Linked DNA regions of Homo sapiens: region 2 is reported to be linked to region 1. Evidence: microRNA targets listed by miRTarBase, many of them from high-throughput screens and not tested one by one. Region 1 holds a microRNA gene; the other region holds the end of a gene's coding sequence.
The links. The annotated mature microRNA hsa-miR-6501-5p reads AGUUGCCAGGGCUGCCUUUGGU and lies in region 1 at 2,944-2,965, opposite strand. An mRNA with a match to its seed (bases 2 to 7 or 8) in the 3' UTR can be bound and repressed. Matches are read on the target gene's strand: a 7mer-m8 pairs with bases 2 to 8, a 7mer-A1 pairs with bases 2 to 7 and ends in A, and an 8mer does both.

Region 2: the mRNA of WDR17 is a reported target of hsa-miR-6501-5p. Seed matches in the 3' UTR shown: 7mer-A1 at 3,837-3,843.

What each region holds. Positions count from the first base shown.
Region 1 is chr21:33,548,254-33,553,628 of GRCh38, reverse strand. MIR6501 (microRNA 6501) reads right to left here and starts at 2,967; the gene lies at 2,901-2,967. SON (SON DNA and RNA binding protein) reads right to left here. Exons shown (of 12, transcript NM_138927.4): 3 at 1-4,153.
Region 2 is chr4:176,179,137-176,184,527 of GRCh38, reverse strand. WDR17 (WD repeat domain 17) reads right to left here. Exons shown (of 29, transcript NM_181265.4): 29 at 1,713-5,068. The coding sequence ends at 4,949. Among named protein-coding and RNA genes, the nearest start is that of SPATA4, 14 kb to the left of the region's middle.

The sequences.
Region 1 (5,375 bases):
GCCACCTCAGTTGGTATTACTTGAGTCTGCTCTGAGACTGTGACAGCAGGCTCTGAAACTGTCACAGTCGATTCCTGGACAGAAACAGATGGTTCTGAAACAATCATAGAAGGTTGAAGGACTGACACCGCTGGTTCCAGAACAGGCACAGAAGGCTCCAGCGCAGAAACAACTGGCACAGGAATGGTAACATAGTCTGGCTCAGCCACAACAGGAGGCTCCGGGACAGTCACAACCGAAGGCTCCAGGACAGTTACAGTCGAAGACTCCAGGACAGTCACAGTCGAAGACTCCAGGACGGTCACAGCCGAAGACTCCAGGACAGCCATAGCTGAAGACTCTGGGGCAGCCATGGCTGGCGGCTCCAGAATGCTCTCTGCCAGCACTGGAGTAGTTACTGCTGGAACCAACAAGGATGTAGATACTTCTGAGGCAACATGTCCTGAGGCTCTCATGGAATCAAATGTTTCTGCTGTCTCTGACATAACAGGAGGCTCTGATGCTAACACAGTTGGTTCAGCTGACATGGCGGGAGTTTCAGATACCATACAAGTCACTGGTCTCTCTGGAACAACTTCATGTTCTTCTGCTACTACTGCAGACTCTACAGGTGTTAACGTAATTGAAGATTCTGGCTCTGGTGGTGGTTCTGGAACAGTCACAGCAGCCTCTGATACTAAAACTGAGGGATCTGATGCTGACACTGAATAATCAGTAGGCACTGCTGAAGGCTCCGAAATCTCACTTTGACTCACAGGAGGCTCAGGCTGCGATACAGACTCTTCAGATGGTGATGATGGCACCTCTGTAGGCCAAGTATTTTCAGCTGTTAATGCTGACTGCTCAGTGGGCAATGCTGGACCCTCTGGTGGTTCCTCAGGAGGCAATGGTGGTGTCATTGGTGGCTCCTCAGGTGGCAACGGTGGCATTGTTGGGGGCTCTTCAGGAGGCAAAGGTGGCACCATATATGCCTCTGTATATGTGTCAGTGTAAGAATCGGTGTAAGAATCAGCAGCCATAGACATCATTGAACGATCAGCAGTATAAGATGACATCATAGATCGGTCAGCTGCAGAGTACGATGACATCATAGACCGGTCAGCAGCAGAGTATGACGACATCATAGACCGGTCAGCACCCATGGACATCATAGATCGATCAGCCATTGGGGACATCATGGAGCGTTCATAAGCTGACATCATGGAGCGTTCATAAGCTGACATCATAGAGCGCTCAGCCATAGGGGACATCATAGAGCGCTCGTAGGCTGACATCATAGAGCGCTCGTAGGCTGACATCATAGAGCGTTCAGCCATAGGGGACATCATAGACCGCTCATAAGACATCATAGAGCGTTCGTAAGATGACATCATGGAACGTTCTGCAGCATAGGACATCATCATAGAACGTCTAGATGCTAACATCAGGGGTCTAGGTGCTAACCTATATGGCCTGGGTGCTATTCTATAGGACCTGGGTGCTATCCTGTAGGGTCTAGGTGACATCCTATAGGGATCAGGAGTTAGTCTGTAGGGATCATGGCCTAATCTATAAGGGTCTTGTCCTAACCTGTAAGCATCATGACCTAATCTATAGGGGTCATGGCCCAACCTATAGGGATCCTGAGCTAACCTGTAAGGATCCTGAGCTAACCTATAGGGATCAGGAGATTTTGAACCCAACATAGCAGAATCTTGGGTACTAGACGCTAACATCTGGGCATCCATGGTACCAGACGCTAACATCTGAGCATCCATGGTGCCAGAAGCTAACATTTGAGAGTCCATAGTGCCAGATGCTAACATCTGGGAATCCATTGAGCTAGTTGCTAACATCTGGGAGTCCATGGTGCTGGTTGCTAACATCTGAGAATCCATGGTGCTGGTTGCTAACATCTGGGAGTCCATGGAGCTGGTTGCTAACATCTGGGAGTCCATGGAGCTGGTTGCTAACATCTGGGAGTCCATGGAGCTGGTTGCTAACATCTGGGAGTCCATGGAACTGGTTGCTAACATCTGGGAGTCCATAGTGCTAGTTGCTAACATCTGGGAGTCCATGGAGCTAGTTGCTAACATCTGGGAGTCCATGGAGCTAGTTGCTAACATCTGGGAGTCCATGGTGCTAGACGCTAACATCTGGGAGTCCATGGTGTTGGATGCTAGCATCTGGGAGTCCATGGTGTTGGACGCTAGCATTTGGGAGTCCATGGTGTTGGATGCTAATATATGGGTCTCCATGGTGTTAGAAGCTAATATATGGGATTCTGGGGCCATCAAGGGATCCACTCCTACTGTTACAGAAGTCTCCCCCACTAATGTAGTAGGCAGCTCCTGTGCTACCGTATTATAGGATTCCAGCGCTGTCGTCGAGGGCACCTCCAGGGACTGCGACACGGTCATCGTTGACAGCTCCGATGTTGTCACCACAGACTGAACAGAGATCTCCAGCGCCACAGTTGCCACAGGCTGCCCAGGCAACTCTGGCGCCCCAGGCTGCCCTGGCAACTCCAGCACCCCTGTTGCCAGAGGCTGCCCCAAAAGCTCCAGTGCTCCAGCTGCCCCAGACTGCCCCGAGAACTCCAGTGCCCCAGCTGCCATGAGCGGCCCAGGCAACTCTAGTGCCCCAGTTGCCACAGGCTGCCCCGACAACTCCAGTGCCCTAGTTGCCGAAGGCAGCCCTGGCAACTCTGGCACCCCAGTCACCGAAGGCTGCCCCGGCAACTCCAGCGCTGTCGTTGCCACTGGCTGTCCTGGCAACTCCAGCACCATCGTTGCCTCAGGCTGCCCCAGCAACCCTGTTGCCGTTGTCACCTCAGGATGCCCAGGATGTTCCACCGTTGTCATCCCCACAGGCTGCTCCAACTCTGTCGTCGTCACAGGTTGTTCGGTCAACTCCATTGCTACTGTTACCGCAGGCTGCTCTGGCAACTCTACTGCTGCTGTCACCAAAGGCAGCCCTGGCAACTCCTGTGCCATCACAGGTGGCTCTGGTACCTCCTGTGGTGGCTCCAACCCCATGGATGGTGCTGGAAGCCCTGGCAATTCCTGCGACAACTGTGGCACTGGTGTCACAGAGGGCCCTGGCAACTCAGGCACTGCTGTCGCAGGGGGCCCTGGCAACTCAGGCACTGGGGTAGAAAGGGGCCCTGGCAACTCTGGCACCGGGGTAGCAGAGGGCCCAGGTAACTCCAGCACTGGAGTCACAGGGGGCCCCTGCAACTCCGGCATGGAGGTCGCAGGTGGCCCCGGCAACTCCATCGCTGAGGCCACCGACGACTCCTGCAGCTCCAACGCTGTGGTCTTAGGCAGCTCCGGCAACTCCTGCGGTCTTGTCATGGATGAATCTGCAATCTCCGATGGTACGTCTACAGGCTGCTCTGGCAATCTTAGCGCTTCAATTGCAGATGACTCTGGAAAATCCATTGTTGTTGATGTGCTTGGCTCAGGGTACACCTCAGTAGGTGTCTCTGATGATACCACAAGGGTTTCTGAAGGCTCTAACACTTTTGCTACTGGGGGCTCTACCAACATGATCTTTGATGGCTCTGGAGATGTGCTCTCCACAGATTTCAGCACAGACTTCATCTGATACTCCACTGACATTGTTACAACTGGCTCAGATGACTTCAACACCAGTGTTGTAGTAGGCACTGGTGCTGCTGCAAAGGAATCCAGAATCTTTGTCATGGATGGTTCTGGCATTACTGCCACAGACTGCTCTGACTGCTCTGAGATTACTGATGTAGATACAACTGACAGTTCTGCAGTTTTTGTAGCTGGCTTCAGAGTTTCTAAGATGTGTGGCTCTGATACCTCCATTGATACTACAGGAGGTTCTAGCACAACTGCAGGGGATTCATTGGTCTCAGATGGGCCAAATGCTCTTGTAGGAAGCTCCAGCGCCACAGCTGAAGGTTCAGAATCAAACTTTAAAAAGGAATCAGATTCTAAATCTATGTTCCCATCATCATGAGATTTCGTCTTTGACTCAGATTCTTCTGGCTGTCTTTTATATTTTTTTTCCTTTTCTTTCTTCTTTTTCTTCTTTTTGTTTTTGTGCTTTTTATGCTTCTTTGACTTTTTAGTGGGAATTTCATCAGTAGGATCTGTTTGTACAGATACGCATCTACTTTTTCTGGAGCCCTCTTTCAAGTCTAAAAGTAATAGAAATTAATTTTGTCAGACATTCCCCAAAGTAGAGTTAGATTAAATCATATAAACCCATATTTACATTCCATGTTAAAACACCTTAGTACAGGCCAAGTACAGTGGCTCACGCCTGTAATCTTAGCACTCTGAGAGGCCAAGGCAGGTGGATCATGAGGTCAGGAGTTCAAAACCAGCCTGGCCAGCATGGTGAAACCCCATCTCTACTAAAAATACAAAAATTAGCCAGGCATGGTGACGCGCACCTGTAGTCCCAGCTATTTGGGAGGCTGAGGCGGATCACTTGAACCCAGTAGGTCGAGGTTTCAGTGAGCTGAAATTGCACCACTGTACTCCAGCCTAGGCAACAGAGCAAGACTCTGTCTCAAAAAAAAAAAAAAACCCCACAGTATAACACCTCACGTTAAATTAAAAGTTACCAAATAAACTATTTTTCATAAAACAGTTAACCTGGAGACTACTACTTTTCTGATAATTCTTTCCACAACTAATGCCTGGGTTAAAAATAAATTATTAAACACCAAAACTTACTTTGAATTACATTAAGACATGTTTCACTAAATTCTATTAAAATAATTATTCCCTCCAGCTCTCAAATCATAGCAAAATTACTTTTAAACTACTTTTGTCACTGAATATATTTCATGTTATTAGTTGCTACAGTTTCTATTAAAAATACCCACATAATATAATTTTTGCGATTATTAACCCTTGTTTATACAGGAAGCAACATGGCACTGGCTCTGGAACAGACTGCCACTTTTGAATCCTCAATCAGTTCATCACTTACTAGGTTAATGGTCTTGGCCAAATTACTGACACACTTGTGTCTTCTAGAGTTAGAGGATAAAGTGAGTTAAAACATGCAAAGTACATCAAATAATGCCTGGCACAGAATAAGCTTTCAACAAAGGTTAGTGATTGCTTCTACAGAGTATAAAAATATCTGAATAACAAATATAAAATATTCATAGAGAACTCAAATTTTACCTTATCATGCCTACGTTACATTCTAATAAAAATAATATTTTCCCCCAATACTATTCTGAAACCACTAAAATAACTTTTTAAATGTTTCTGTTTTAGAAAAGGATACTGATTTTAGAGAGGAAATTCTTAGTCCTTATAACTTAAGAAAGTTTGAATTTACATACCCTAAAGAGATAACATTTTCCCCCAATACTATTCTAAAACCACTAATAAATAACT
Region 2 (5,391 bases), not on the chromosome of region 1:
ACCATGATGAATAAAGAGTTCTTTCTCATAATTTTGTAGGAATGGTGAATCTACTTTTTCATATGCTTTCCTTATTAGAAATTAAAGGTTACTGCTTTGCCTATTATATAGTTACACATCACATTCATTAATTAAATCGTATTCTGAATGATTATTATACTTTGGCCCATAGAACATCTTGATCATCTCTAAGAACAGCCTGAACTTAAACCATTAAAAAAAAACAGGTGTCCCTTCTATTGAAAACAAGTTGTGGGGAAAGAAAATCATCCTTTTCTTGGAATTTGATTCGGTGTTTAGCAATACATTTAGTTCAATTTAAAAGTTCCCACTGGTTGCTGCTATGCCCCATATTTTAACTGAAGGGAAACAAAAGCAGACTGATGTCCTGAAAAATTAATAATCTTTTATATATACATGGTAATTTTATGTTTTATATGTGGAAAATTTTCAACTGGTATTATTTATGTTTGATACTGGCTCATTAATAGTCTCATTTGACTCCCAAGATGAATATTACTAATGTCAATTTTCAGTTAAACTTACCAGATTTTCTGCATTTTTGAAAGTTCAGACTGTTTTATTAGCAATTCTACCTCCAGAGACTTCCTTGTTAAATTTTGCATTTTTAGAGAGATAATATTGAAGAAGACTAAGAAAGCCCGGATGATACAGATAACTTACTGGGAATGTGTTCAAAATCCAGTTTTATCTGAGGTAAGAGATCTAGGTCAAATGCATATCTTAATCAGCTATAAGTAATGTATCTGTTGTCTTGCACTCTCATGGGACAATCTAAAGTACAAAATTATGAGAATAACTTTTAACCTATATAGTTCCTTTGGAAAAGGTTTGAGAAACAAGTCTCTGAAGCTCAGCCATGAAAAAGATCCAGAGAAGAGGATTAATTTTGGGTAGAGTCAAATAATAAGTTTCTTTGTCCTCCTGGTGCTGTGTTCAATCTCCTGAAAGAGCTCATCACTCATGGCCCGACTATGGTAAGTTCCCAAGAATCCTGAGGGACCTATAGAGACTGGAAAATAGGAAATAGTCTGTAGGCTTCATTACATAGTGATTATGTAAATGAAGATACAGGATGGTCAAAGTGGGTAACCTCAAGAGTTTCTTGAGGATGAATTGTGCAACAGAAGCCAACACTACAGGCATATCTTAGACCATTTACTTCAAAAAGAATCTTTGACAGAAGGAAGCAATGAAATTTTCTAGGAGCTATAGCAGCTGCTATAGGAATAAAACATTTTCTTTTTTGTTTTGTTTTGTTTTTATTTTTGGTTTTTGAGACCTAGTCTTGCTCTGTTGCCCAGGCTGGAGTGCAGTGGCGCAATCTCAGCTCACTGCAAGCTCCGCCTCCCGGGTTCACGCTATTCTCCTGCCTCAGCCTCCCGAGTAGCTTATGGGAATAGAAGCTACTATGACATAGCATTTGTATTAATGAGTAAGCACTTTCTCCATTTTTATAGTAATTTTGGGGTATACTGTAGTCAGTGTTTCTATAGTGAAGAATCAGCCTCTGGAACAATTCAATGAAGTGATTTTCCTAGGTTACTGAGTAGGGTAACAACTCAGTTGGACAGCTTAGCCCTTTCACACCTCTGATGACTCTGATCCAAGCATTTATGGAGAAACACTTGTCTTTCAATGGTGTCTCGGGAAAGAAACAACTACTCATCTTAGCCGGTAACTATGTCATATCAGGATTTAACTGTAATATTTATTAAAATTTCAAGGACCTGAAATACGTACATACATATAAATCTAGATAATGACATGCCAAATTATAGCACAGTCATGATATATAATTTTAGCATGAAAGTACATATTTCATTTATGTACAAATATCTCAAAGATTTGGTACAATAAGCATTAATTAAGAGTTGACTATAAAGATGTCTTCTATATTACTGATATACTAAATATGAACTACTAAATTTTACAAATAATTTGTGAGGCTTTTATTATATTCAGAATACCTTTTGACTTAAAACTGAAATAATATAAATGTTATAAGGACAACAAAATACAGTCATTGCTCTAATGCAATCATGTTCCTGAACACATCTGGACAATTTCATAGAAATATATATATATATATATATATATACACACACACACGCACATATATATATTTCATACATACATGTATATATATACACATACATATATATTTCATTTGTCTTGATTGACATAAAAATCATATATTTTCACAAGATGTAACTATTTTGATGTTGTAATTTTGTGAACCACCTAGTTACTAACTTTTACAGGCAAAATATTTTTCCAATGCTTTAAAAATCATTGTCTAATGAGACTCTTCCTTTACAGAGGCATATTTAAACCTGCAAAGTAATTTGTCCACATTATTGGTAATATGAACATTTTCAAATAGTAAAATAAATTCATATAATTTGCTTGGGTTTCATGCATATGAAATCTAATAAAAATACTTTTATGAATTAAAAAATTTGTTTTTCATATTAAGGTACAATATATACAGATTGACATAGTCAAATGACATTTATAATTCTATGAAAAATTAATAGTTATAGGTAATAAGATATAGACATTGTAGAAATCAAAGATAATAGAATGATGGTCAAATCCATCCAATTTAGATTTCAGACAGAAATTGGGTGGCTATTCTGTTGTATTTATGTGCTTAAAGACTTGCAAAATTTTTTCTTCATCTTTTATACATAAAAATATTATTTTCCTGCATTCATTAAAAATACAGAAGTAATGATTGTTTATATACTTAATGATATCCTTTTAAGTATGTAAGCACAAAAAGATAGGCTTATTTATTTATTTTAAAATAAAAAGAATGACAGTAGGATTGAGACTGCCATTTTTAAGTGAGGGGTTTTTAGTACATATGTGCCAGTTAATAATCCTCCTCACCTAAGAAAAATTTGAGTTACAGATATCTCTAAGAGTTTAAAAAAATACATCTCAGGTACTCTTTTTATATTATCCATTGCATCTCTGAGTTGTGTATATTCTCTTCTATAATATTAATTATTTTTATATATATAATTTTTGGAGATGGTGGTCTTGCTCTGTCGCCCAGGCTGGAGTGCAGTAGTGCGATCTCAGCTCACTGCAACCTCCGCCTCCTGGATTCAAGCGATTCTCCTGCCTTAGCTTCCTGGGTAGCTGGGACTACAGGTACACACCACCACACCCAGCTAATTTTTGTATTTTTAGTAGAGACAGGGTTTCACCATGTTGGCCAGGATGGTCTCCATCTACCGACCTCAAGATCTGCCCATCTCGGCCTCCTGAAGTGCTGGGATTACAGGCAATTTTTTTTTTTTAATAAAATGGAATTTAAGCCTGTAATGTCTTTTTAAGGAATCAAAAGTGGTCATGTGATAAATATGATACATAGATACATAATATATATTTTTTCCAGTTTTAAGAAGTTTTGTTAAGAAGGTTTTAAAAATATTTTAAATGCAACAAGTTTAAAGATAATAAAAGCCACAAGTATTCTAGTTATATGAGATTATTCTTTAGTCAAACAAAACCATCTATATTATAAATCTTGTGAAACAACTTGAGTATCAAAGTACTTCCAGTATGCATTAATTTAATAAGTTTCAAAGTCAGAATTCTAGTCCAACTGAAATATCTGTAGTCACATTATCAGGCTTTTCATAGCTTCACACTTTTAAACAACATTTTAAAAGTTAAATCAACATAATATATCCAAAAATTCAACCAATATCTATTTACAAACATTTACTTAAAACTAATTTTCATCAAATCAATTGTGGTTTTTGTTGGTTTGTTTTTTGAGACAGAGTTTCGCTCTTTGTTGCCCAGGCTGGAGTGCAGTGGTGCGATCTTGGCTCACTGGAACCTCTGCCTCCCAGGTTCAAGGGATTCTCCTGCCTCAGCTTCCCAAGTAACTGGGATTACAGGTGCCCGCCACCATGCCTGGCTAATTTTTGTATTTTTAGTGGAGACAGGGTTTTACCATGCTGGCCAGGCTGGTCATGAACTCCTGACCTCAGGTGATCCACCTGCCTTGGCCTGCCAAAGTGCTGAGATTACAGGTGTGAGCCACCGTGCCCGGCCAAATAAATTGTGTTTTAAATAAAGTTAACATAAATTGACTAGAGTATACTGTGTAAATTATTGTACACATTAATCAAAACTAATATCCATGCATGCTGAATCTCTTAAAATAGTCACTTTATCACCTAATGCAAGTTTTCATATATATATTCGACTGCATTTTGTGATTTTTACCCGCCAATTTTTTTCAAGCCTATATAACTTACACCTTTACAATGGGACAGTTAAACTTCAGATAAAAAAACTGGTAACATTTTCTTTTTTTTAAAAGTATTTTGAATGTGTATCCATTTATTAATATTTACTAAACTTATAACTGAAAACTTTTATTAAAACAGCTAACGTTAGTGGTTTACTATGCATTTTATAAAGGAGAACGTAAGTGTTTGTTAAGTTGAAGATCACTGTGCACACCTTACATTTCAACATTTCAAGATATTCAATCATTCAAATATCCATTAAGTACTTACTGTATGTCTAGCACTATTCTAGGTGTTGCACAATTTAATATGTTTCAATATTTCAACCATATGATATTTTGGTATCTTTTATGCTGTGTGAAACTTTTATATGCTTTTTAGATTATTCAGTCCTTTATAATTTAAATGTTTCCTCCTTCCCAAACGTAGCTATTACTGTTTATAAAGGAGGCACCTATTTTTCCTTTAAATTATATATATATATATATTTTGAAGTTAATGACTAAAATTCACTGCTATTTCCCACCTCTCCCAACCTGCAATCCTTCTCCCAACCTCTGGCACTTGAGCAACAAAGATTAAGGTAATGCTAACCCATGAAAGTTTTTCTTTAAAAAAAAAAATCAAGCATGGACAAAAATCTTCTATCAGAATGGATTGAGTCGTATTCCAGTCCCTAAAGGTGAGAATGGATTCACCTTTGCCCACATCAAAGCATCATTCAAGGAGATAGCAGATTTCCCGTCTTCAAGGAAAAACACAGGGCCCTGCACAGTGAGAGTTGAGGAAAGAGAAGATGAGATTATAAATTTGCAAAGTATTTTTAAACTTTCAGAAAGAGAATCACTGCAATAAAAAAAAACATAATATTTAGGCAAAGCTAATAAAAAAATGAAGACTATGAGAAAATTAGTTTTTTTGAGCTGGACCCAAATATAGAAACATTTTCAAATGTCTTAACATTATGTCATTATACCCTAATATCTGTTAAAATAGAATTGTTTACAATTTAAATTCTTTAAATACAATAGTAATGCCAATGACAAATATGTTTTGTTAATCTGGTAACTGCCACAAAGTTTACCTATTC